Linked DNA regions of Homo sapiens: all the other regions are linked to region 3. The links come from fine-mapping of genetic effects on plasma protein levels. A gene starts in region 3. Each other region holds a variant in brackets. All regions are shown on one strand. Distances are from middle to middle.

Region 1 (5,108 bases), 68 kb before region 3:
GTAATCCCAGCACTTTGGGAGGCCGAGGCAGGTGGATCACCTGAGGTCAGGAGTTCAAGACCAGCCTGGTCAACATGGTGAAACCCCGTCTCTACTGAAACAAATATAAAAATTAGCTGGGTGTGGTGACGGGCGCCTGTAATCCCAGCTACTTGGGAGGCTGAGGCAGGAGAATTGCTTGAACCTGGGAAGCAGAGGTTGCAGGGAGCCGAGATTGCGCCACTACACTCCAGCCTGGGTGACAATAGTGAGACTCCATCTCAAAAAAAAAAAAAATAGTCAGTCATGATAGGGAAAGGCTGCCCCTTATTTAACTCCCCTCCTCACTGTTTCCTTATTTTGCTGTTTTAAACTGTTATCTCTGCAGCACATCTACAATTCTGCATATAAAGTTTACAGCAAAATAATAAGTTTTATTTTATAAAAAAACTTTATTAAAAATAATTTTCCTATGAACTGAGGGGTGTGAAAGTTGTTTAATACTATAATCATACTAGAATAAAGGCCTTAACCTAGTGTCATTTTGTAAATATGTGCATTTTCACAGGGAGAAAGTCCATAGTTTTCAACAAATTCTCAAGAGAATCAACTATATTTGTAAAATAAGATAGTAAAAACCAAAGAACTGTTTTTTAGGAACATGAATTAACAAGATAAAGAGCCTTCTGCAATGATATTTAGAAGGCAATGTATACCTGCTCAAGATATAGGCAATATTAAAAAAGAGACTATCAGTCAACATTAACTTACCAGACTGATTAAAATTCTGTGCCAATTAAGAAATCTGAAAACTCCAACTAAAAAACAAATATGTATTCTCATTATTAACTATCTATTTTTTAATGAAAGATTATCCAAAAGAGAACAGTTAAGGGCATATGAGAGTTATATAGAAGGCTACAACTAGTGACTTTACCAGTGACCTTACCATACTATTAAAAAATCACTATATACATGCACAAGAATGAAAGTGTATTCTTTCATTGTAGAAATTACAAATACTACTGTATCAAGGTACCACCAAGGTGACTGTTTCAGAACACAGGCCGGGGGACCTATTTTCTGTTCCTGCTTTGGTCTTTGTCTCTCTCCATGCACCTTGAAAAGATGTGTTAGTCTTTATATCTCCTTTTTTTCCCCATAAAGTCACAGAACCACTTGTTTATTATTTACTTTTTAGTGTATTCAGAGAAAATTTTAAATATCAGGCCAGTTTTTCATAACTACTCAAGATATTCTGTTCACTACCATGCAAATACCCCTTCAGGAGATGCAAATTACTTTTATTATTATATTAAGAACTGCAAAGTGAAGCCAAAGAATAATTCAGTGAGTTACATAATATGTGTTCTAAAGATGGATATAAAATAATTTTAAATTATATTTTTGTTGTAATAACAATTCCGTTCATGTTCTCTGCTAGAATATGACAGCATTTGGCAAAGGTGATGCACGAACCCCAGGGTGTTGTACAAGACAGTCAATTAGGTTTGGAAGGAAAATAATTAGCCTTGTACTTATATTTACATTGGCTTTATGATATCATACTCCTTGTTTCCCATCCTTTGTGTATGTGATGCAAAGTAAATAAATTATAGTATTTTATAATATATTGGATACTAGTTTGCTGTAGTCTACATAAGCATACTAGTTTTGATACACTTTATTGTTACTACTACTACTGTCTTATTACTAAATTGTTAATATACTATATAATTATAAAAGAAATATGTAGTGTAGTCCTGTATGCATATAATCTAGTAAACAAATATTCACAGTTTGTAGGGCAAACGCATGCCAAAAAGATTTACTGGCTATGGAGTTTATTATTAAAATCAGTTTGGAGACCACTGGTGCTGTAGTGTGACGCTTAAGGATTCAATCAACAACACACAAGTAAAAATATAAATGTAGAAAAGCACATTGAGTAAGGATAACGGTGTTGCCTTCACTATTGACACCTATGAAATGGAATTTTAATAGGGCATGTTGGAGGGTGGTCAACAGAGACAATTTTGCTAATTAATATGGATGGAGGATGTTACTTTAAGAAGGGTATGGAACACCTGAAAGTGTCTAGTTGAGAAAGAAGAAATAGCAATCGTGTGTGCATGCCTCCCAAGCGCCTTGTTGGCCTGTCTCTCTCAAGAAGTGTATGATTAAGACATACAAGTTTCCAGTCATCAGTGTAAACAGGATTTTGATTTGGTTTGGGAAAGCAAGCATAAAGAAATTATACGTATCAAAAAGAGTAGATAGGTCACAGTGTCTGTAGTTCTTATGGAAGAGGGAAGCACAAAAAGCCCACATTAGCACATCAGTGAGAACTCCATTTGCCATACACCTACTATGAAAACCGAGAACTGAAAGGCCTTGTACCTTGCCTCCT[T/C]TTCAGGTCTGTTCAGAAAATAAACCAGAACCATACTTAAAAAAAAAAAATGATGAAACTACAAATAACATATTAAATTATTCTTGAGTTGAAATAGAATGAAAGTTTCAGCTTCTGCCTTAGTGGATGGGAAATGAGGTTAGTTCAGACAAATCATAGTTGCAGAAAGTAATCTTCTTGTAGGCATCTAAGATAATTAGGAAACAACCCAACAACTGTTTTTAGAGTCTTCCTAGTCTTGGGAGAGCATAGCAGAGGAAGAAAGCATCTGCAAAAGGCTTGGCGTTCCCTGGAAGACAGGCACTGCTTGAGTCCTAGTACTACATGACCATATTTGTTTTAACTTAGTAATGTTCAAAAATTACGATATTCCAAAGATGGGAGGATAATAATGCCCATGAACTATCTGGAATAAAACTATAGATCAATTTTCAGAAAATATCCAATGTGGGATTTAAGGGTTCTTTCACTTTCTTCAAATTCCTGGGATTTTTAAAACTATATTGTTGCTAAGTGAGTCAGTTCACACACTCCTCATGACCTCCCCACCCCTACATTCCCGCGGATGCTTTGTGGAACTGCTGATGCACACTGATGCCCCAGTAGAGGTTTCCTGCTAGCCTTCGTGTTTTTCCTCTCTCCTTCAGCTGTCATTCCTTCTCAGTTTATCATCATCGATAAAGCCTAGAGGTAGCTTGTCTGCCATAAATACTTATCTGATACAGAAGGGAAAAAGCCTTTTGGAACATGACTAGGTGGCCTGTCTTGTCCTATATTTGCCTGGGGAAATGTGAGAATTTGTAATCCCTATTGCTAGGGATTTCTGGTCATTTTGAAGTACCATTAAAATGATTATCAAAGATTTAAATTCAGCAATGAAACACATGATTCTCTTAATGACAAGGTCAACTTAATTGGGTGTCTGTCCTAAGTGAAATATTGCTCATAACTGGCATCCCCCGATGTAGTTTAACATAAAATTATAAGTTGGAATTATTTTTTTAAAAAAAGCAGTGTATAGAAACTGAATAGTATAATTTCAGATCTGAGATTTCTAGCAGAGATTACAAGAAAACATAACTAATCAACAATCTTTATCAATTAAACATATTTTAATTAGTCCTGTGCTAGTAGGCAAGTCTAATCTGTCTCAGTCCCATCTTTTAAGAAAGACTTGTCTAAAATGTTAACCTGATTTCTCATTTATTTTCATTATTAGTCAGGTGTTATGACCTTCCACTTCATTTGCTTGATCCCTATGTCCTTGCCTCGGAAGAATCACAGATAAATTGTCTTGTGATTATATTTACTGATTAAAAATATTAATATGTTACCAATTTCTCAGTCTAATGTACTTAACACTAATTTTCAGATTTGTAATACATTTCCACCTAGTCCTAATTATGTTTTCAATATTCACTGAGATAGGAATATTTAAAACTGTCTAATGTAGACATTTTCACCTACTCTTTTTCCAAAAATTGTAAATACATGGCACAGCAGAAGTCCTCCCTCCTTGACCTCAGGGAAACTGAATTAAACAACACTTGGCACCAGGCTTTCAACCTGTATAATCATTATGGTAGGCCCTGTGCCAATCCTGTTTATGCACAACCCTCAGCATGCAGTATTAAGGAACAACAAGGATGGCAAGCATCCCATTGAAGAATTAATTAGCAGACCGCCTGGACTCATCAGAATGGTAAATAATTATCCTCTGACAAACTTAGTCAGATGTTAGAAGAAATTGCCATTGGAATTGATGTCAATGGCCACAATTCATTATTTAAAAGCTACCAGTGGCTACATTTTGCATAGAACTTGAAAGACGCCCCAGTCAGGTGATGAGCCATCAGTATCGCATTTTCCTGCCTGTGGGAATATCCAGCTGTCCTCCCCGCATCCCACACTCAGACCCAGTCTTCCAGGTCAGCTTTTTCTTTCCTTCACACTGAATCCTCATACCATACTCAGATGTGCCCAAGTAATGGATTGATTAAACATATTACCCTGCCTTGTTCAGCATGATTTTAATCCTGTCTGTGGCATCAAAACACAAGGACAGCTTCTTATCATTTATCCCAATTCTTGGCAAGAGGAGAGATTTCTTAGGTGTTTGTTGTCCTCTTCCTTTGACACTATTACCTTTGGTCAGGTTAAAAATACTTGTGAACTAAATGACTGATAATTGGTTAATCTACCTAAGTTAGCAATGGGTAAGAAGCATTACCTGGAAATGCATTCTCCTCCACGTTTTAAAATGGACAAGGAAGGTAATTCAATACCTTCCTACATAGTACGCATCCTTCAGTTATGCCAACTACGAAATGGGTCACTTTAAGTAATTTGAGGAAGAAAGAACACAGTTAAGTAGAATCATGATGCAGACTTTCATTTTACGAAAAGCATTAAAAATTCAACTAGGTCAGATGCTTTCTAGCTCAGAGTCCCACTGGAGTCTCATAAAGCTTAAATATGTAGGTTTAGGTGGTACAGTCCTCAGAATCACTCTCTCACCCTCATAGCAAAATGCCTCTTACGATTATGAGGAGGAGTGCAGTACACTTTCCCATAAAAATATATCATGATATCCATCAAACGTATTGTACAGCATGATAGATATTCCCTTCTAAATTTTGACAGGACAATGAGCATGGCAGACTTGGCAAAGTCGCATGAATTGTTTTTACCTCAGAAATGTGTGCCAAGTAGTCCCGAG
Region 2 (5,108 bases), 100 kb before region 3:
TAGGCCCTTATAGGTTGTTAAATGAATCTTCATTACATTCAAAATGAGATGAAATAATTGACTGAGGATACCAAAAGAATAAAGCAGCAAGCTTACCTATAAATCAAAGAGGCCTCCCTTTTCTTCTCTAAAATGAATAAGTCTCAAATATATGAGGAGATAATTGAGAGTCAGTGACACAAAGAAACATCACATAAACCTATCTATGTACAACACAGACCTGGCTACATTTGTTATTACTCTTTAGAGTTGTTTTTCATTTCAAAAGGAATAAAACTACAGGTCAGAAAATTTCAAAACTTAGAAAAAAGAAAGAAAAATGATCATCTTGATTGCAAAGAACTCCATTTACTTATTCATTCTTTCCCATATATAATTAGCATTGAATATTACATATGTATCAGACACTGTGCTATATCCAAGAAATACAAAGATGTTTATAAGCCCCTCCCTACAGAAATCAACAGTTTCTTTAAGAAGATAAACTCAACAGTACACAATTAAAACACAGTGTCATAATTACTCAGAGAGATGCATATTTTGTAAATGATTTCAATTTGTACCTAGTTTCAGGAGGATTATGCAAGAGGTGATGAAACCTTAATTCTGATGTTGATTCCGCTAGTAATTAATTATGTGACTTACAGTTTTCTTTTCTGGGACCCTGTTCCTTCATCTGCATAATGAAAGAAGTTTGACCAAATGCTCTCTACACTCCCAGGTCTTCATTATCTTACTGCATGGGAATTCCCTTGTTAATTCTCCTCATCATGGATGGTGGTGTTTAATACCCCACAACAATTTACCCTTTAACCGGCCCATCATATCAAAGGAGGCCACCTATGTGTCTTTTTGTCATCCCCTATCTTCTACTGATTATCCCATTTTCCCTTTTGGAAAGGAAATAGGGAACTTTATAACTATTATGTGGTCATCAATATGCCCAAGAGACAGTAAAGGAATTGTTTTCAAGAGAAAGATGATAAAATTCCCTTCACTGTTACAAAATTCTCTATGCCCCGAAGAGAATCCTGGCTCCCACAATATATTTTCTTACAACACTTTTCTGGATGAGACTTCTCTGCTATTAAAAAAGGATTATTCTGAGTAAGTGGTGAGGATGCCTTCGACTATTTAGCATAGATAAGAGAATTGCCACTTGCCTGGATCCTGGGGGAATGGAGAAATAAGTTCTTTCCACAGACACACCGAATTGATTCCATTATGTTTCCATTCTTCTTCAGCAGGGACACTTATCTTCCTTTATACTAGACAATTTATGGTTGAAATTCAGTAGACGCCTCTGAATCTCTTTTGCACAGTCCATGTAGAGACTTCTCTTCAGCTGGTAGGTTGTCAGTATCATGGTAGACTCATCAGAAGCCAAAGACTGAGTTTTACACTGGCCTAGATGGAAAGATTTGGTGATTTCAGTTTTTTGCTTATCAGTCAACTGTCTTTATTAGAATCTTATTCATTGTCGTAAACCATAAAATTTCTATTTCCTTTTAGCTAACCCTTAGAATGAAGTTGCTTCTCAGGGGAGAATAAAACAATCTTTTCAGGGGAAATCTAGGATAACTTACGTAAATGTCTAACTATAATAAAGTATAGCATCAATTATTGTCTCTTAAGTATATAATAAAGATCTTATCCTAAGCCCAACTCTCATATCTGAGCAAAATTGATAAATAGGGGAGGAAGACAGATTGTAGTTGACATTCCTGTAACTAAAGGAGAGGATGTTTTGCTGTATTTAGTCCACAGATAGAGATAAGTGGAAAGGTCAGAATGGTCTCTACTCCACACTCAACCCCATTGAATGGCACCTGAGCTGTTCTTACACGTAAAGACAACGAACTATTTTCACAAAGGACCTGAGGCACCTAGGGCAACCATAACATTGCTGCCTGGTCCATGACAAGCTTATCACAGACTAGAAAATATACACATTCTTCTCGCTGCATTGAAAAACATAGTAGAGGCCAGGCACGGTGGCCCATGCCTATAATCACAGCACTTTGGGAGGCTGAGGCAGGCAGATTGCTTAAGGCCAGGAGTTCGAGACCAGCCTGGCCAACATGGCAAAACCCCATCTCTACTAAAGATACAAAATTAGTCAGGCATGGTGGCATGTGCCTGTAATCCCAGCTACTCAGGAGGCTGAGGCAAGAGAATCACTTGATCCCAGGAGGCAGAGGTTGCAGTGAGCCAAGATCGCACCATTGCACTCCAGTCTGGGCAACAGAGCGAGACTCCATCAGAAAGACAGAAAGAAAGAAAGACAGAAAGAGAGAAGGGGGGTGGGAAGGAAGGAGAAAAGAAAGAGAAAAACATAGTAGAATTCTACAAAATGGGCTCCAGTATTTTAACATCAACAACCAGCATGTTACAGATAGGTAGATAACGAGCAGGGCAAGGGAGAGCTCTCCCCGCACCCACTAGGAATGTCAAATGATGGTTTGGCAATTATCACATTGCCTCTCCAAAAATAATAATTCGGCAGCCAAGGAGAGACAATCTCTTGATGGTCCACACCGGTTAACATTAAAAATGTTAACTGAATGCAGGCCCCAGGGAGAAGCAACTTTTTGGGCATGTGTGTTAACAGACAAAAATAGCGAAGTATGATCTTCTAGGGGCACACTACACCGGAAAAGGGAAGAAAAGCCTCAGATGGACATGCATATAACTCCCTAAACACACTGGTCATGCTCAGTTCCCAAGGGTAAGGAGGACACTGCACATGTAGAAAGCCCACCCTAAAACAACAATCATGGGAAAGAGCAAAGCCTATAAAGTCCTAGGATCAAGGTTAAAGGCTCCGTTTTTTGCTGTCTTCTTTTGTTTTTGCTCTCTTTTCTCTCTTGGACCTTCAGGCGCCCGC[T/C]TGGGTCTCTTCCTAGCAAATTTTTCTTTCTTTCCTGTTCTAAAGCCTTTTAAATAAACTTCTACTCCTGCTCTGAAACTTGCCTTGGTCTCTTTTTCTGCTTTATGCCCCTCAGTCCAATTCTTTCTCCTCAGGAGGCAAGGACTGAAGTTGCTATGGACCCATACAGACACGCTGCTGGTAATTCAGGGAAACTCGAATCTCTGCCACCACTAACAAGCAGAGCCATGAAAGAGACCTTAGTGTCCAACAAATGTGATGGTACCCTCAGGATATCTCTGAGATGGCAGATCCACAGCAGCCATGAATAAATAGCATATTCGTGGTAGGAATTAATGGGTGTATATATAGCATTACAGTTGTTGAGCCCAGTGCTAAAATGTGTTTGTGAACTATCTGATTTCAAAAAAAATACTTGAGGGTAAGGATTGCTTAATACAGGGTGCTTAAAGTACTGTACTAGATGAGAGCAAGAGTTGGTGCTATTTGGCTTAAGCAGAGACTTTTTTTAAAATATAGAATAGTATAGCAGTTTTAAACTGCCACACTTTGTCATCAATTCATTCATTTATTTATCAGTTATATAGTAAGCACTCACTGTGGTAGGCCTAGGATACACTGTGGTAAATTAAACAGACATGGTCTTTGTACTTTTGGAGCTCATCATCTGATCAAGTGCATACACATTAAACAAGCAAATAAATGAGTTAACATATAATTAACATTGTGATAGATGTTATGAAGGAAAATAGAAAGCTAAGAAAAAAAAGAATGGGGTATTGAGATTCACTCTTGTTCAGTTAGTTGAGGAAGGTGTTTCTGAGGATGTGATATTTAAGGGAGACTGAAAGAAAAATATCAAGCCTTGGTCAAAGACATAGTGATTAAAAAACGATTAGCGTGCCTGAGAACTGAAATAAGGATAGCATAGCTGGACTTTAGTGACACATTTCACCAAATTTGTTTTTAACTTGAGTAGACATAGCTTTGATCTCAATACCTTTCTTAATTTCCTCCAGTGTTACAAAGTGAGAAGATGCTTATCAAGAAAAATGAAAGGGTTGATGATATGCCAGAAGTATTTCATAGACCCATTTTCAACTTCCTATTGAAAATTGTTACTGAAAAAGAAGACAAGAGAAGACTACACGTTATGAACTAAGAGTTGGCACAGGGAAAGAGGAAAAATAAAAGCATGGTATGTCAAAACGAGACCAAAGATACTATTTTGCTCTTAAATATCCTAATTAGAGAAATATTGGTTTAAATGTATACAAGATAAACTTAAAGATATAATTGGTAGAATTTAAAACTCTCTCTTTTAAAGCTCTCTCTTTTAAATCCCTTCAAAAGATAAAAGCAAACAAAATATGGTCCAAATATCAAGAGAGGAAACATAGAAAATGGCAAGGAAGCACAGAAAATAGAATCCATAAAACAAGATGACAGAAGCAGGACCAAACATATCAGTTATGACAATGTATGTAAATGTGTTGAACTCCCCAATTAAAAGGCAAAGACTCTTAGATTGGAGTAGAAAACAACATCCAACAATATGCTGTTTACAAGAGACAAACTTAAAACAAGATGACTTGGAAAGGTTATAAATAAAGGATAGGCAAAGACATATCTGTAAAATGCAAACAAAAAGACAGCAGAAGTGGCAATATTCACATCAGCCAAGGTAAAATTCAAAATAAAAACTATGAACAATGCAAAGAGGATTATATTGTCTTTATAAAAGAAGCAATCTAAAAGAAATTATATTCATTATCAAATGTATGTGCCAAGTAACAAAGAACAACACAAAGGAGAAAAACTCATATAAATAATTTTTAACAAAATCATAATCATAGTATGAAACCTCAATGCATTACACCAAGCCATGTCAAATCAATTCAACACAAATGAATAAGGACCTGGAGAATTCAAGGTATATTAAAATTCACATTTTCCAGAGAGAAAATGCACATGGACTCCTTTAAAAAGTGGCAATTCTCAAGGACATGAAGAAATTGGAAATAAATTCTCCAAAGCAGAAATTGTTCAGCATATACTTCCAAACACAATTTTTTAAAATTGTAAAATTATAAACAAAATTCAAATAAAGTACTCCAACAATACTGTTTAAAACTCACTCCTAAATACTGAGTCCAGAAGGTGCGCAAATTAGTACTCTAACCTAGAAAATACCAAAAACTATAAAGTCAACATTTACTAA
Region 3 (5,108 bases):
TTTAGTTGTTATGGGAATGCATAGATTTTATTAGACTGTACTTTAGACAGGGAAGGAATGTCACACAAGTTGTAGACTGTATTGGCCAGGATTTTTCAGAGAAACAGAACCAATAGGATTCATAGAGGTAGATAAGTGAGTTGCAGTTTATTACAGGAATTGGCTCATGTGGTTATGGAGACTGAGAAACCTCAGTCCAGGCCACCTGCAAGCTGGAGAACCAGGAAAGCCAGTAACATGGCACATTCTGAGTCCAAAGGCCTGAGAACCAGGGAAGCCAATAACATCACTCTCAGTCTGAGGTCAAAAGCCTGAGAACCTAGTGAGGGATGTGGAGGTTGTGGGGGCAGACTGGTACAAGCCCCAGAGGCCAAAGCCAGAGAATCTAAAGTTCTAGTCCAAAGGCAGAAGAAGAAAGATGTCCCAGCTCACTAACAGAGACAGAATCCACCTTTCCTCTGCCTTTTTTTCTATCTGGGCCCTCAACCAATTAGTGGTGCCTGCCCACATTGGGTGAGGGCATCTCCTCCCCACTCAGTGCACTGAGTCAAATGCCAATCTCTTCTGGAAACACCCTCACAGATATACCTAAAAATAATGCTTTACTGGTTCTCTGGGTGTTCCTTAGCCCAGTCAAGTAGACACCTAAAATTAAATGTCTCATAGGCAATGTTCAAAAACCAAAAACAAACAAACAAAAAATTGAGACTTTTTTTCTAGACCAGTGTTTCTCAACTTTAGCTGCACATTTGAAAGACCTGGGAAGCTTTGTAAAAAAAAAAAAAAAAAAAAAAATATATATATATATATATATATATATATATATATATATATATATTTAATACAATATCAGCCCAAATGTCATCTCCACCTCCTCTCTCATCAATTGACCAGAGTTTTGGGGATCTTGTTTCAAGTGGTTCTAATGAAAAGCCTGTGGCGGAACTGCTACCCTACCAGTCAACCAGCATCACTCAAAATCTGGTCCAAGTCCTGGTGTGGTCCTGAAACTGTTGCTTGCTGGTTTAAGACGAGATAAGTACTGAAACTGAGAGTAAGTGTATCTTAATCTGTTCAGGCTACTATAGAAGAATAACATAGACTAAGTGACTCATAAACAACAGAAACTTATTTCTCACAGTTCTAGAGACTGAGAAGTCAGAAATCAAGGCACCAGCAGATTCGTTGACTGGTGAAGGCCCATTTCCTGGTTCATAGATGGCACCTTCTCATTATGTCTTCACTTTGTGGAATGGCAAGGCAATAGGGCCTCTTTTTTAAGGGTGCTGATCCCATTCATGAGGGCTCTATCCTTATAATGAAATCACCTTCAAAAGCCCTACCTCCTAATACTATCACATTTATGATTAGGTTTCAACATATGAATTTTGGGTGGACATAAACATTCAGACCATAACAAAGTGTTTAGAAACTTTTATAGCAGTATGACAAATTAAGTTTATTTGTAATCAAATGTAATAATAAAAACAGATGGATTAGTGAAAAAAAAATAGTTGGCTTACAAAGAAATACATTGAAACCCCTTGAATGAATGATCTAAATAATTAAACATATACATCTCTGGAAGTGAGGATATACCAGGCCCCTTCTTTAAGCTGTTATGTCTTAAAGCTGAAATGTTAACTTCAGTGATAAATTCCTCAGGCAGAGCATTGGCACCTGGCTACAACAGGGTTAATGAGCAGGAGTAGGGTAGGTGGGGTCACAAACCAGGAACACATGCCCTCCAAGTTAGATAGCTTTTTTTCCTCTTTAATTGCCGTTTAAACACACATGCTCTCACATAACACAGAAGGTGAGAGCTGAATGAAGTTTTCTGGGTAATGGCATGAAATGTTTTCCTTATGAGAAGTGGTGTTGAGTTACAGCGTGCAGACGGAGAACGGGGAGGAGAGAAACGGCAGTCTCAATCTGGCCCCCACCTTTTCTTGGGCTTGTAGGAAGGTGGACATGGGCTCCCGGAGACAAGACAAGTGATATGTTGAACTGTTCGGTGGCTGGAATCAACTGCTCCTGGAGTGACCTAAGGCCAGTGTTTATCAGAACTTAGCCAGGGCCAGCCAAGCAGGCACAGATGCTCTGCTATGAAATGCCACGCAGGCAGAGACTGACAAGCGGTAGGAACTGAGCTTTCCCCTTGGACTGCTGCTTCCTGCTGTGTTCAGGGGAGGGGGTCACTTTCTGGCAACTCTGCTGCTGCTGCTGCTGCTGCTGCTACTTCAGCTTCCTCTCCACTCAAGGTAAGCAGGCTAAGGGAGGGCAGGCTGCTAGGGAAAGCTTTGTACCATGAACAGGATCCGAAAGTTTTTCCGAGGAAGTGGGCGAGTCTTGGCATTTATCTTTGTAGCTTCTGTCATCTGGCTCCTCTTTGACATGGCAGCTCTCCGCCTCTCATTCAGTGAGATCAACACTCGGGTCATCAAGGAAGACATTGTGAGGAGGGAGCGGATAGGATTCAGAGTTCAGCCAGACCAAGGAAAAATTTTTTACAGCAGCATAAAAGAGATGAAACCTCCCCTAAGGGGACATGGGAAAGGGGCATGGGGCAAAGAGAATGTTAGAAAAACTGAGGAGAGTGTGCTCAAGGTTGAGGTGGACTTGGACCAAACCCAGAGGGAAAGAAAAATGCAGAATGCCCTGGGAAGGGGCAAGGTTGTGCCGTTGTGGCATCCTGCACATCTGCAGACCCTCCCTGTGACTCCTAACAAGCAGAAGACAGACGGGAGAGGCACCAAACCTGAAGCCTCCTCTCACCAGGGGACACCAAAGCAAACGACAGCTCAGGGGGCTCCAAAGACCTCATTCATAGCAGCAAAAGGAACTCAGGTAGTCAAAATATCAGTACACATGGGACGTGTCAGTTTAAAACAGGAGCCCCGGAAGAGTCATAGTCCCAGCAGTGACACATCAAAACTAGCAGCTGAAAGGGACTTGAATGTGACCATCAGTCTTAGTACTGATAGACCAAAGCAGCGATCACAGGCAGTAGCAAACGAGAGGGCACACCCTGCCAGCACAGCAGTGCCGAAGTCTGGGGAAGCCATGGCCTTAAACAAAACTAAGACTCAGAGCAAAGAAGTCAATGCAAATAAACACAAAGCCAATACGAGTCTTCCTTTTCCTAAGTTCACTGTCAATTCAAATCGCTTAAGGAAGCAATCTATTAATGAGACACCTTTGGGAAGTTTGTCAAAGGATGATGGAGCTAGAGGGGCTCATGGGAAGAAACTCAATTTCTCTGAAAGCCATCTTGTGATTATAACCAAAGAGGAAGAGCAAAAGGCAGACCCCAAAGAGGTCTCTAATTCTAAAACCAAAACAATATTTCCTAAAGTATTGGGTAAAAGCCAAAGTAAACACATTTCCAGGAATAGAAGTGAGATGTCTTCCTCTTCACTTGCTCCACATAGAGTGCCACTGTCCCAAACTAACCATGCTTTAACTGGAGGGCTAGAGCCAGCAAAAATCAACATAACTGCCAAAGCCCCCTCTACAGAATACAACCAGAGTCATATAAAAGCCCTTTTACCTGAAGACAGTGGAACGCACCAGGTGTTAAGAATTGATGTGACACTTTCTCCAAGGGACCCCAAAGCTCCAGGGCAGTTTGGGCGTCCTGTAGTTGTCCCCCATGGAAAGGAGAAGGAGGCAGAAAGAAGATGGAAAGAAGGAAACTTCAATGTCTACCTTAGCGATTTGATCCCAGTGGATAGAGCCATTGAAGACACCAGACCTGCTGGGTAAGACCTATTTCTCTTCTCTTTCCTCAACCCCAAGTGCTTTGGCTGTTATGTAAAGAGGATTTATTGCTAGATAATTCTGTGTGATTTTTGGTCACCTAGAGAATTAAAGAAACATTAATCATTGGATATCATTCAAATATTTCACCAGCTACAGAGACAAAAATTCTCTTATTAGCAGTTGCAGAGTTCTTGTTCTCTGAGACTTTGGTCCCTACCATTAGCTCATGTTCAATTTTCTTCCCTCTGTTGAAAACCTATTAAAATGATTAGATGAACTCAGTTCATAATAACGTGTATATAAATGGTAGAGCTTAAAGTGTAATTCCATTAGAATAGTGACAATGAAGTGAATTCCCAATTTTGGAACTTTTCATTATTAGCAAGTTTGTCAGGAATATATTTGGGAAAGAAGCACACAGAAGGACTCTTCTAGGCCTCCCTGGAATCATATCTTAACCAGCAGAATTCTGCCTAATCATAAGTAATGATAAGCAGGATAGCAAGAGAAGTGACTTTACTCCCTAAAATTTAATCTCCTTTATAGGTGGAGATGGTAGATATTTCAGGAGATCAGTTACATAGGAATCATAATGTTGGAAAAAGTCAATCAGTCCATGACCAGCAAACACCTACAGGAGGTATAAAAAGCATAATAATAATCACTTATATTTGTAGACATTCACTATTTACAAAGAGCCTGCATACACATAGATGAACTCCATATGAGCCCTGCAAAGGAGGAGGCAGTCATTATGGTTCAAATTAACAAGCTGGCGAGGGCGCTCAGAAGTTACAACACTTTCTCAAGGTAATGCAGTTCTAAAGCTGCCCAATGGGCCTTCAGTAACCAGTCCTTCAAAAAGTTAAATTCCTATAACTATATCACCAGATGTGGATCAAAACATAGATATTTAATCTGATTCAAATATAATTGGGTTCCTGGCATTTTTTTTCTTGGCCCACTGATAAGTGAAGGTACTCAACAGCCGTATGTTCAATATCTGTTAACTCAGTTCCCTAAGTCAAACAATATTTGCCAGGAAGTTGGATTGGGGAATGTCAAGATTGAGACTTAGCACATGTGGCATGTAAACAATGGCCTTGTTTGGCTTCTGTAGAAAATTCTTCTTTGTGATCTAGGTAGTCAGCATTACATTTTAGTCAGTGTTACTAGGAGGAAGGCAGATACAGGAGAAGCTTTATCCACATTAGAAAGAAGAGTCTCTTCATTGTGATGTCGGCTACAACCAGGTCGTTTTCCATCTCTTAGCCATCAGCAAACAGCTATCAGCCATGCACTGCTTATACCAAGCACTGTGCCATTCACGCTTCTCACCCTGGTGA
Region 4 (5,108 bases), 810 kb before region 3:
AAGAAGAATAAAAGAAAGGCTTGCATTTTCTATTTGAGAGCTGGTCCACTTACTGAGAAGGGGAGAGCTGGGAGAGAGGCAGACTTGATGGAAGATATAAAGTGTTCTGCTTTGGCTAAGTTTGAAGTGATTATTAGATATTCCTTTGGAGATGTCAGACAACTGGGTGAATGGGGTTTGGAGATTCTGAGAGGGGTTTGGCTGAGGATACAGACTTAGGAATTATTTGCATATAGGTTATATTTGATACTGGATGGAGTTACCTACAGAGAATGTATATAGAGAGAAGCAGGCCATTGAGCAACTATTATATAGAAGAGAAGGAGGAGTTGCCAGTGGGATGGGATGGAAAGCAGAAGAGCGTGGTGTCTCTGAGGCTAAGAATTCAAAAGATATTAAAAAAGAGACGGTTCTACTATGTTAATTATAGAGATTACATTTGGTGAAATGAGGTCATTTGTGATTTTGACAATTTGACATATAGTTTAAGAAGAGGCTGGGACAAAGTTTATTGGATTAAATTGTGGAAGTGGAGACAGTTCTTATAGACAACTCTTTTTTTTTTTTTTTTTATTGCTCATTCTTGGGTGTTTCTCGCAGAGGGGGATTTGGCAGGGTCACAGGACAATAGTGGAGGGAAGGTCAGCAGATAAACAAGTGAACAAAGGTCTCTGGTTTTCCTAGGCAGAGGACCCTGCGGCCTTCCGCAGTGTTTGTGTCCCTGGGTACTTGAGATTAGGGAGTGGTGATGACTCTTAACGAGCATGCTGCCTTCAAGCATCTGTTTAACAAAGCACATCTTGCACCGCCCTTAATCCATTTAACCCTGAGTGGACACAGCACATGTTTCAGAGAGCACAGGGTTGGGGGTAAGGTCACAGATCAACAGGATCCCAAGGCAGAAGAATTTTTCTTAGTACAGAACAAAATGAAAAGTCTCCCATGTCTACTTCTTTCTACACAGACACGGCAACCATCCGATTTCTCAATCTTTTCCCCACCTTTCCCCCCGTTCTATTCCACAAAACCGCCATTGTCATCATGGCCCGTTCTCAATGAGCTGCTGGGCACACCTCCCAGACGGGGTGGTGGCCGGGCAGAGGGGCTCCTCACCTCCCAGTAGGGGTGGCCGGGCAGAGGCGCCCCTCACCTCCCGGACGGGGCAGCTGGCAGGGCGGGGGGCTGACCCCCCCACCTCCTTTCCGGACAGGGCGGCTGGCCGGGCGGGGGTGCTCCTCACTTCCCAGTAGGGGCGGCTGGGCAGAGGCGCCCCTCACCTCCCGGACGGGGCAGCTGGCAGGGCGGGGGGCTGACCCCCCCACCTCCCTCCCGGACGGGGCGGCTGGCCGGGCGGGGGGCTGACCCCCCCACCTCCCTCCCGGAAGGGGCGGCTGGCCGAGCGGGGGGGCTGACCCCCCCACCTCCCTCCCAGACGGGGCGGCTGGCCGGGCGGGGGTCTGACCCCCCCACCTCCTTCCCGGACAGGGCGGCTGGCCCGGCAGAGGGGCTCCTCACTTCCCAGTAGGGGCGGCTGGGCAGAGGCGCCCCTCACCTCCCGGACGGGGCAGCTGGCAGGGCGGGGGGCTGACCCCCCCACCTCCCTCCCGGACGGGGCGGCTGGCCGGGCGGGGGGCTGACCCCCCCACCTCCCTCCCAGACAGGGTGGCTGCCGGGCGGAGACACTCCTCACTTCCCAGACGGGGTGGCTGCCAGGCGGAGGGGCTCCTCACTTCTCAGATGGGCGGAGGGTCTCCTCACTTCTCAGACGGGGCGGCCGGGCAGAGACGCTCCTCACCTCCCAGACGGGGTCGCGGCCGGGCAGAGGCGCTCCTCACATCCCAGACGGGGCGGCGGGGCAGAGGCGCTCCCCACATCTCAGACGATGGGCGGCCGGGCAGAGATGCTTCTCTCTTCCTAGATGGGATGGCGGCCGGGCAGAGACGCTCCTCACTTTCCAGACTGGGCAGCCAGGCAGAGGGGCTCCTCACGTCCCAGACGATGGGTGGCCAGGCAGAGACGCTCCTCACTTCCCAGACTGGGTGGCGGCCGGGCAGAGGCTGCACTCCTGGCACTTTGGGAGGCCAAGGCAGGCGGCTGGGAGGTGGAGGTTGTAGCGAGCCGAGATCACGCCACCTCACTCCAGCCTGGGCACCATTGAGCACTGAGTGAACCAGACTCCGTCTGCAATCCCGGCACCTCTGGAGGCCGAGGCTGGCGGATCACTCGCGGTTAGGAGCTGGAGACCAGCCCGGCCAACACAGCAAAACCCCGTCTCCACCAAAAAAATACAAAAACCAGTCAGGCGCGGCGGCGCGCACCTGCAATCGCAGGCTGAGGCAGGAGAATCAGGCAGGGAGGTTGCAGTGAGCCGAGATGGCAGCAGTACAGTCCAGCTTCGGCTCGGCATCAGAGGGAGACCATGGAAAGAGAGGGAGAGGGAGACCGTGGGGAGAGGGGAGAGGGGAGAGGGAGAACTCTTTCAAGAAGTTTCATTATGAAGGAAAGCAGAGACGTGGAAAAGTTCTTGGAAGAGGATATTGGTCAAGGGAGGGTTTGTTAGAACTAGAGGATAATACAGTGAATTTCTATGCTGACAAAATGATTAAGTAGAGAAGAGGAGCTGATGAAGGTAGGAGAGAGTGGTGGGTAATTGTACAAATAAAATTTCTGAAGAGCCAGGAAGGAAGGGGATCTAGTGTACAAATAGAATGATTGGTCTTTACTTGAAACAGGCACATTTTATTAGTAAAAGGAAGGACTGCAGAGAGAATGAGTACAGAGGTGGATAAGTCATCATTTGGGTGGTGGGAAGATGAAATTTTTACCTAGTTGCATCTACTTTACTTTCCCAGTGAAGTGTGATGATATTGGGGTGTGGAGGGGTGAAACAGGTTTGGGAAAAGAGATTTCAAATGGCTATTTTGAAACATCCTGGGGAAATGTAATAGGATTGTGGGTCAGTGTGGATTGCACATTAATGATTTGCAGCTATGAATTTAAATTGAGGCCAGTTGTGGTTGCATGTTTTTTTT[C/T]CCAGGCAGTTTCTTCAGCTGTTTGGGTGGAGATGTGAAACAGGCAGATAGTTGGGTTTAACTGGTTTGGGGGTTTGCCAAGTAAAAATGAAGCATGAAGAGAGGAGCAAGGGAGTTAAGGGTGCTTGGAAGGGAGAAATTACAGTGATGGACCTAATTTAATTCTCAGCTAGGCAGCAGGAGAAGTGACTGATAGTGAAGCAAATAGTAGGGTCAATGGACTGAAGGGCCAGATAATGCCAAGATGGTGGAATGGAAATTCCAGACTACAGTAGATAAACTGAAGAAAGAGAAGGTGGTGTTTACAGTGTAGGGTGCTTGAGGCTGGAGTCTGCGGAGTTGATATAAATAGTGGGGATGCCCAAATCAGAGGTTATGATAATGAGGTAGGGTCAAACAAAGGTCATCAGAGGTGAGGTGGTTGAGGAATTGGAGCCTTCATGTAGTTGTAGAAAACAGCAATGATGGCCGGGCCTGTAATCCCAGCACTTCGGGAGGCTGAGGCGGGTGGATCACCTGAGGTCAGGAGTTTGAGACCAGCCTGGCTAACATGGCAAAACCATGGCTCTACTAAAGATACAAAAATTAGCTGGGCATGGTGGCACATGCCTGTGATCCCAGCTACTTGGGAGGCTGAGGCAGGAGAATCGCTTGAACCCGGGAGGTGGAGGTTGCAGTGAGCTGAGATCACGCCACTTCACTGCAGCCTGGGTGACAGAGTGAGACTCTGTCTCAAAAACAAAAAACAAAACAAAAAAGAAAACTGCAATGATGAAGACAGATGAGTCTGGAAAGGGAAATAGGTATGAAGGTCATCAGCAAATAAGGGGAAATAGCAGTAGTTGGGTAGATGACAGCGAGAAGGGATAATGGGTGGTAAAGTCTAATGGCATAAACTTCAGACAGGTAAGACTTTTGAAAGAGGATAGAAGAGAAATTGGAAGGTGAGCTGGAGAGACACTTAATCCACCTCTAGGTTAGGGGATCTTGGGGTTATGAACAGAGTCGTTACTCAAAGTGTTTGACAACTCATGTGAAATGGTAACCTGCTGATGTCGGTGTTCCATCAGGAGCAGGGTTCTGGGGGCCTTTTGTGAAGCTAGATGTTAACTCTTTAATCTCTTGATCATAGCTAGTTGTCAACTGGTTGAGAGGTATTTTGATACTTTAGCAACTGCCATAGCCATCCTTGTTTATACTGGCTGAAACTAGACCTAAGTATGAGAATATAGGGCCATGTGTGGTGTCTCAGGCCTGTAATCTCAGTGCTTTGGTAGGCCAAATGGGAGGATTACTTGAGGCCAGGAGTTCTATACCAGCCAGGGCAACATAGTGAGACCCTATCTCTATGAAAAAAAAAAAGTGATAATATAACCAAGCTTCTCTTTATATGATATGGGAAAATAGTGTTATTAGTGTTCAGCATCTGAAATTCAGGTTAAATCTTACTTTCTTTATGTTTTCAAGGTTTAGTTTGGTGAAAGGAACACTCAGAGAAGAGAATTTAATGGAATTTGCTGGGGATAGAGTTTAAGTACCAGAGGGCAGAGTGGGAGGGAGGGAGGCCTGGGAAGGTGAGAGATGGGGAAGATTGGTCTTCTGGTGATGACTGAGGAAAAGAGGGCTGTGGAGCATGCTAGGGTTAGTCCTGGTGATGTCTTGGGGGAAATTGGGTAGGTACCATGTGGCAGCTCCTGTTGCTTAGTGGCCAGGGGTGAGCAAAAGCCTTCTTAGTGTGTCTGTAGCCTAGGTCATCTCCTGAAGACGTAGTGGCCAGTTGGAGTATAAAGGCCTCCTTGGGGACCAGCTGCCCTTCAGTGGCTGATAGCATGAGGTGCTCTTAGGGCCTCTTCTCAGCCATGATGGTGGTGTAACCCTGGGGGAGAGGGAGGGGTCTTCTGTTTGAAGGACTAAGGACTGCTGCTCCCAGGGAGCAGTCATCTTAGCAATTCTCCCTCCAAAATGGATTTGGACTTCGTGCTGTCCCCTCTGTAATGACTGTGGTTGTCTTAGTATGGACTCTCAGGAGTTGCGTCCAGTCTCCTGACTGCCCTGAATCCAGTCTTCTGATTTCCT
Region 5 (5,108 bases), 86 kb before region 3:
TTTTTAATTTTGTTATTTTTATTTTATTTTGTTTTTTTACATATGGGGTCTCGCTCTGCCACCCAGGCTGGAGTGCATTGTCATGATCACAGGATCACAGCTCACCACTGCCTTAAACTCCTGAGCTCAAGCAGTCTTCCCACTTCAGCCTTCAGGGTAGCTGGGACTACAGGTGCATGCCACTGGGCCTGGATATTTTTTTTATTTTTTGTAGAGACAGGGTCTCACTTCATTGTCCATGCTGGTATTAAACTCCTGGACTCAAGCGATCCTCCCACCTTAGCCTCCCAAAGTGCTGAGATCACAGGTGTAAGCCACATACCCAGCCTCTTAGTTGTTTTTATGCTTTTTAGCTCCCCTTTTTTACCTTCCTTTATAGGTTCCTCTCTTCCCTCTTCTTTTTCCTTACTCCTACAGGTGGTATCCCCAGTGGTGGGTACTTTTCCTCCTCGGCTCCAGGTCCATGCGTCTGGGTCCTGCTGGATAGTCCCTCCCCTAATGATCTCACCTTCTACCGGAAGACCCACTGTGGTTTACCTTCCACTGGGTCCACTCAGATCTCAGGCTCTGTTACACCACCCACTTTTGTTCCTCCAGCTCTCCAGAGGCAGAAGCATTCTGGGGTGTGGCTATTCTCTAGGTTGCTTCCCCATTTCCTCAACTTGTCTATTGCTTATGTAACTGATTCCTTCTATTGAATTTTCTCTGTTGGAAATATCTAAGGTAGTTTCAATTTTCTTATTGTATTCTAACTGATAAAAATGGCTAAATCAATTTGTGGAGTAGTGATGGATTAGTGGAAATAGAGAGACTGGATTAAGAGAAGAAGTGGTACCAGAGTTCTGCAGTAATCACACATACCTAAATTATTTGCTTTCATTAACTTTAAGGATATTTTAAAACAGAGTGTGCACAGCAAGAGGGACTGTGATGATCCTGAGTGTTGAAATCTCACTGCATGATGCAAACTAAAAGGGCTTGGGGCTGTGGGTGTAAGAGTCATCTTGACCATTGACAGTGCAGTCACGTTGAAGAACAGACACACTTTATGTTGTTCTATGGTCAGCAATGAGGAGGATCAGATTATGAATAAACAACAGAATCTTCCAACAAACAAGGATGACTAGGCTGCCTCATGAAGTTTGAGTTGTCAGTAACTGAAAATGGCCAAGCAAAGACCACAGGTCTATTTTTAAGGGACTCTTGTTCTACTGTGGAGCTGAACTGGGTAATACACAAAATCTTTTCCAAATTGAAAAATGGATGGCTTACCCAGGTCTCTGCAACCAGGTCAGCTGTAGCAGCAGAAGGAGAATATACAACCCCTGAATCAGAAAGTTCCAAAATGTCTTCAGTTTAAGTATACTTATATAAACCAATATAAATAAAACTCCATGCCATCCACCTATTTCCAAAGGGCCTCATAGTTGACAATTTACATTTGCAAGAAGACTAAGATATGACTCATTTTATATCATATTGCTCTCAAAAAAGGCTTCATTAATTTGTACTATGCTGAGTGGAAATTATTCAAGAAGGCTGCTATTTCAATAGGACTGATACTTGCCCATCTGGGTAGATCCATATCACAAGAGTTCACTGATAGACATATTCTGATGTAAAACCTTTTTTCTTGTTTTACCTCTACAGATTTTTTCACCTCACTTTCTCCTTGATTTTATCCCAAGTATTTTGAAAATGTTCCAATTTTGACATCAATCCAATTGCTGAGAACTCTAGCATAAAATGAAGAAAGACACATAAAAAGAACAGCATTAACCATATAAGCACATTCATGCCACATTTATAAGGCAATCAGAGAAAACATGCATATGTACCCAAGTCAGGCAATTTTACATGTGTAACAACTTATCTAATTAAAGAAAGAAATATTTGACAGATCTATACTGGTCAACTAATTACACATTTTCTTTTAACAATAACTAGAATTCAGATGCCATCTAATTACTATGTTTTCCATGATTGAAACCTTAAAATTTTTTTCTTATGTATCAATTGCAATAACATAGTTATTTACATCTATTTTTCTTGATATCTTTATTCTAAATGTCTTTCTTCTTTGCCTCAGTAAAAGTATTCCTCTCTATTGCATATAAATGCTGCATGATAAAAGTACCGCAAAATTTAATGTCTTAAATAGCCTTTACTAAGCTTACAAGCCTTCAAGTCAGCAAATCAAGTTGAATTCTGCTGGGCTGGTCTCAGGTGGGCTCACTCGCATATCTGATGGCTATAGTCACAGAAGTGACTAGACCATGTGTCTCTCATCATTCAGCAGGTGAGCTTAAGCATGTTCTCATGGCAAAATTGAGGAGAAAAAAAATAGAAACCTACAAGTGCTATTTCAAGACTCTACTTGTCTCAAGTTTGCTACCAACCATTGGTCCAAGCAAGTCACATGGGCAATCACCGAGGCAGTGAAGGGTACAACGAAAGGGCATGCATACAAGACACCTGGATAAACTGGGACCATTCATGCCACATAAAGAAAACATGCCTAAGTGCACAGTTAATGCAATTTTACATGTGTAATAGCATTCTAACAAAGGGATAAATCCTGTTATCTGTGCTGATCAATAGGTTAACTGGTTTTATTTAATAATATATTACAAACTCAAATGCCATCTATTTGCAATGTTTGCCTTGATTGAAACCTTTAAATATTCCATATTTATCATTTGCTGAAAAACTTTACTTGATTTCTTTATTGTAAGAGTCTTTTTACTTTCAGCCCAATGAATAAATAGACAGGTAAACCTCTTCCTGGTGTGCTGTTGGTTTTGCTGGAGAGCCTCTGTTCTTGAATTGAGGTGCTGACTGTTTATTTCCATGAGTCAAAAAGCAAAATTTAAACATACCAAATTGTCTACTGTCCATGGTTGGATCTTGGACAAACACAATGCAGCACTTTAAATATGGCTGTGGAAATGATTACTGCTGGTTGCTCATGAGGAATTATTCATCATCACCTCATGTGTTTGGTTCTTTCTTCACCTCCTACTCCACAGACATGAGTGCTCACCATTTTGTGGCCATATCTAAAAGAATTATTAGTCATTAACC[T/A]ACCTCTTCACCAAACAAGTATTTTTCAAATAAGTATTAAGAATATTGTTTTTAATTGAAAAATAAACAACCCAGGTATATTTTGTCTACTAAACCATGGTTTTATTAAGGGTCGACATAAACCCATGCCGCCTCAAACTTCTGAAGCAATCAAATAGGTTATATGACTAAAAGGAACTACATATTATTAAGGTGTTTTTCCCTTCACATAAGATCTTTAAAGAAGATACTACAGCGGTAAATATAAGCCAAAAGCCTATTTTATGTGAAATTTTACCATACCTTACTTTTTTTTTTTTCCTTTATTTTACTGGATTTCAAAACACACATGTACATTGGCATGAATGTGACCTGTCTCATTATGAATAAAACACCCAAGCAATATGAGCACATTTTAAAACAACAAAGAGTGTACAAAAGTTCAGTCTTCTGGAAAATGCTTGAAAGATATTGTGGATTTTTCCATTTACAGAAGCCTTATTGTTACTGTCCTTCCCACATCTGCTATTCATTTTGGGTACCTCCCCACAATTCAGTGAACAAAGGTGCCAAAATGTTGTTATTAATAATTCTCAAGTACCTTCTTCCTTTACTTCTAAATAAAAGATCTTTAATATATAGAAAGGATACTTAGTTTCACGTGAACCAGGATGCATAGTCTTAGCTACAGGTCTGTGGTTTGGGTGACACTATTTTGTGAAAACAAGGTGCACTGGCAGTTTGAGAGGCACAGGGCACAGTGTTGAGTGTGTTCTCTAGGATGAGATAAACCCAGGACACCAGGACCAGTTCAACCCGGGTCTCACAGAGATTGCTACGAACACTTGGCAACTTCTCAAACCCTAGTTTTCTCATCTGCTTATAATTCTTTATAACTACAACAATAACACAAATGTCCTAGGGAAGGCTATTTTCTGGGGGAAAAAAAAACTGCAGAAGATCTTTCTATAAAGGACAGTACTCTATGACATAAATTCCCAATCTCTCTTTTTTTGTAAATGTAGAATTTTGCCTTTTGATTTTTCCCTAAAGGAAGGCACGCCTATTTTTCTAGAATAAACAACCACAGAACTTCGTTAGTTTAGGGGCGGAAAACGTAAAGGTAGTGGTGTTTTTGTCCCACTGGCACAGATGCTTTAAGCTTTAAAACAACCTCCTACTTCTTAATCCCTCTCTCCATATTCTTGCCAAGCTCTCTGGAAATCTGAGTTTTGGACACCCTCCAATACCACATCTCATCCATATGCCTGCCACAGAGGAAGACATTCCGCAGGCTCTTTCCTTCACTCTATGAATGATTCATGTGTTAAGATCTTAAATACTCACTGAACGAAGGACCTAATGGCTTGAAAACCTGATCTGACGTCAAGGAATTGTGCTGTTTTAGGGACATGCTTCTAAGGCTGGTTGTTTATCCTTGCTCAATCCCAAATCAGAAAGCCCTCTATTAGGCAAGCAGAGAACATGACGGTGTCCCCTTTTTGAGAATCTTTTCTGAGACTCACATTTCTAAAGAGCATTTCAGCTCCGGTGTCAAAATGGGGAAATAGACTTTTGCTGACAACAGTATATTTAAGTCTACACCAGGAAAAGTAAGTGAAAGGTTAATGTTATCATTTCATTTTCCTCCAAGAAAAATAAACCATATTTTAAAAATCACTTTCACCACCTACAGCAAGATCACAAAACAAACTACAATCTACAGGGAGAGGCTGGCAACTAAAATAAGTGGGAATGATCAAGCCAGAGACTTGGTCCAGTCTAAAAGGGTACAGTCCTTACTTAGCTAAATTTCAATGATTTTTAAGGAAGCACATGGAACCAGAATTGCCAGAACTTTCATAAATTCAACAGAAGCCATAAACCTTCATTCTTATGTGAAGTCTCCCACTTTTAAACATCGGTAATTAATTCAGACAAATGTAAACATTGTATAAGCCAAACAAACACATCTGTAGGCCAGATTTGGCCGGTAATGCCAAATTTGCAAAATTTGACCTCTAGCTCTACTTACTATTATTTCA

Direction of the effects. Alleles are on the strand shown, and positions count from the first base shown. The strength of an association depends on the size of the effect and on how common the allele is.
As copies of T replace C in region 1, the plasma level of the protein whose gene starts at base 1,930 in region 3 goes up (strong association).
With allele C in place of T in region 2, the plasma level of the protein whose gene starts at base 1,930 in region 3 is lower (moderate association).
For the plasma level of the protein whose gene starts at base 1,930 in region 3, allele C in region 4 goes with a higher level than allele T (moderate association).
In carriers of allele A in region 5, the plasma level of the protein whose gene starts at base 1,930 in region 3 tends to be lower than with T alone (moderate association).

The links. PIP is the chance, under the fine-mapping model, that this variant and not a neighbour inherited with it causes the effect. The UK Biobank Pharma Proteomics Project read protein levels with antibody pairs (Olink). The fine-mapping took linkage between variants from a reference panel, not from the people measured, so its PIPs are less certain.
Region 1: its variant is fine-mapped to the plasma level of the GALNT5 protein (UK Biobank, PIP above 0.99).
Region 2: its variant is fine-mapped to the plasma level of the GALNT5 protein (UK Biobank, PIP above 0.99).
Region 4: its variant is fine-mapped to the plasma level of the GALNT5 protein (UK Biobank, PIP above 0.99).
Region 5: its variant is fine-mapped to the plasma level of the GALNT5 protein (UK Biobank, PIP above 0.99).

The regions. Positions count from the first base shown.
Region 1 is chr2:157,187,355-157,192,462 of GRCh38, forward strand. No RefSeq gene overlaps it. Among named protein-coding and RNA genes, the nearest start is that of GALNT5, 68 kb to the right of the region's middle. The variant T/C (reference allele first, on the strand shown) is at 2,390.
Region 2 is chr2:157,152,908-157,158,015 of GRCh38, forward strand. No RefSeq gene overlaps it. Among named protein-coding and RNA genes, the nearest start is that of GALNT5, 100 kb to the right of the region's middle. The variant T/C (reference allele first, on the strand shown) is at 2,888.
Region 3 is chr2:157,255,776-157,260,883 of GRCh38, forward strand. GALNT5 (polypeptide N-acetylgalactosaminyltransferase 5) reads left to right here and starts at 1,930. Exons shown (of 10, transcript NM_014568.3): 1 at 1,930-3,761. The coding sequence starts at 2,308.
Region 4 is chr2:156,450,111-156,455,218 of GRCh38, forward strand. The region is part of intron 1 of GPD2 (glycerol-3-phosphate dehydrogenase 2); the gene reads left to right. Among named protein-coding and RNA genes, the nearest start is that of GPD2, 16 kb to the left of the region's middle. The variant C/T (reference allele first, on the strand shown) is at 3,033.
Region 5 is chr2:157,169,489-157,174,596 of GRCh38, forward strand. No RefSeq gene overlaps it. Among named protein-coding and RNA genes, the nearest start is that of GALNT5, 86 kb to the right of the region's middle. The variant T/A (reference allele first, on the strand shown) is at 3,085.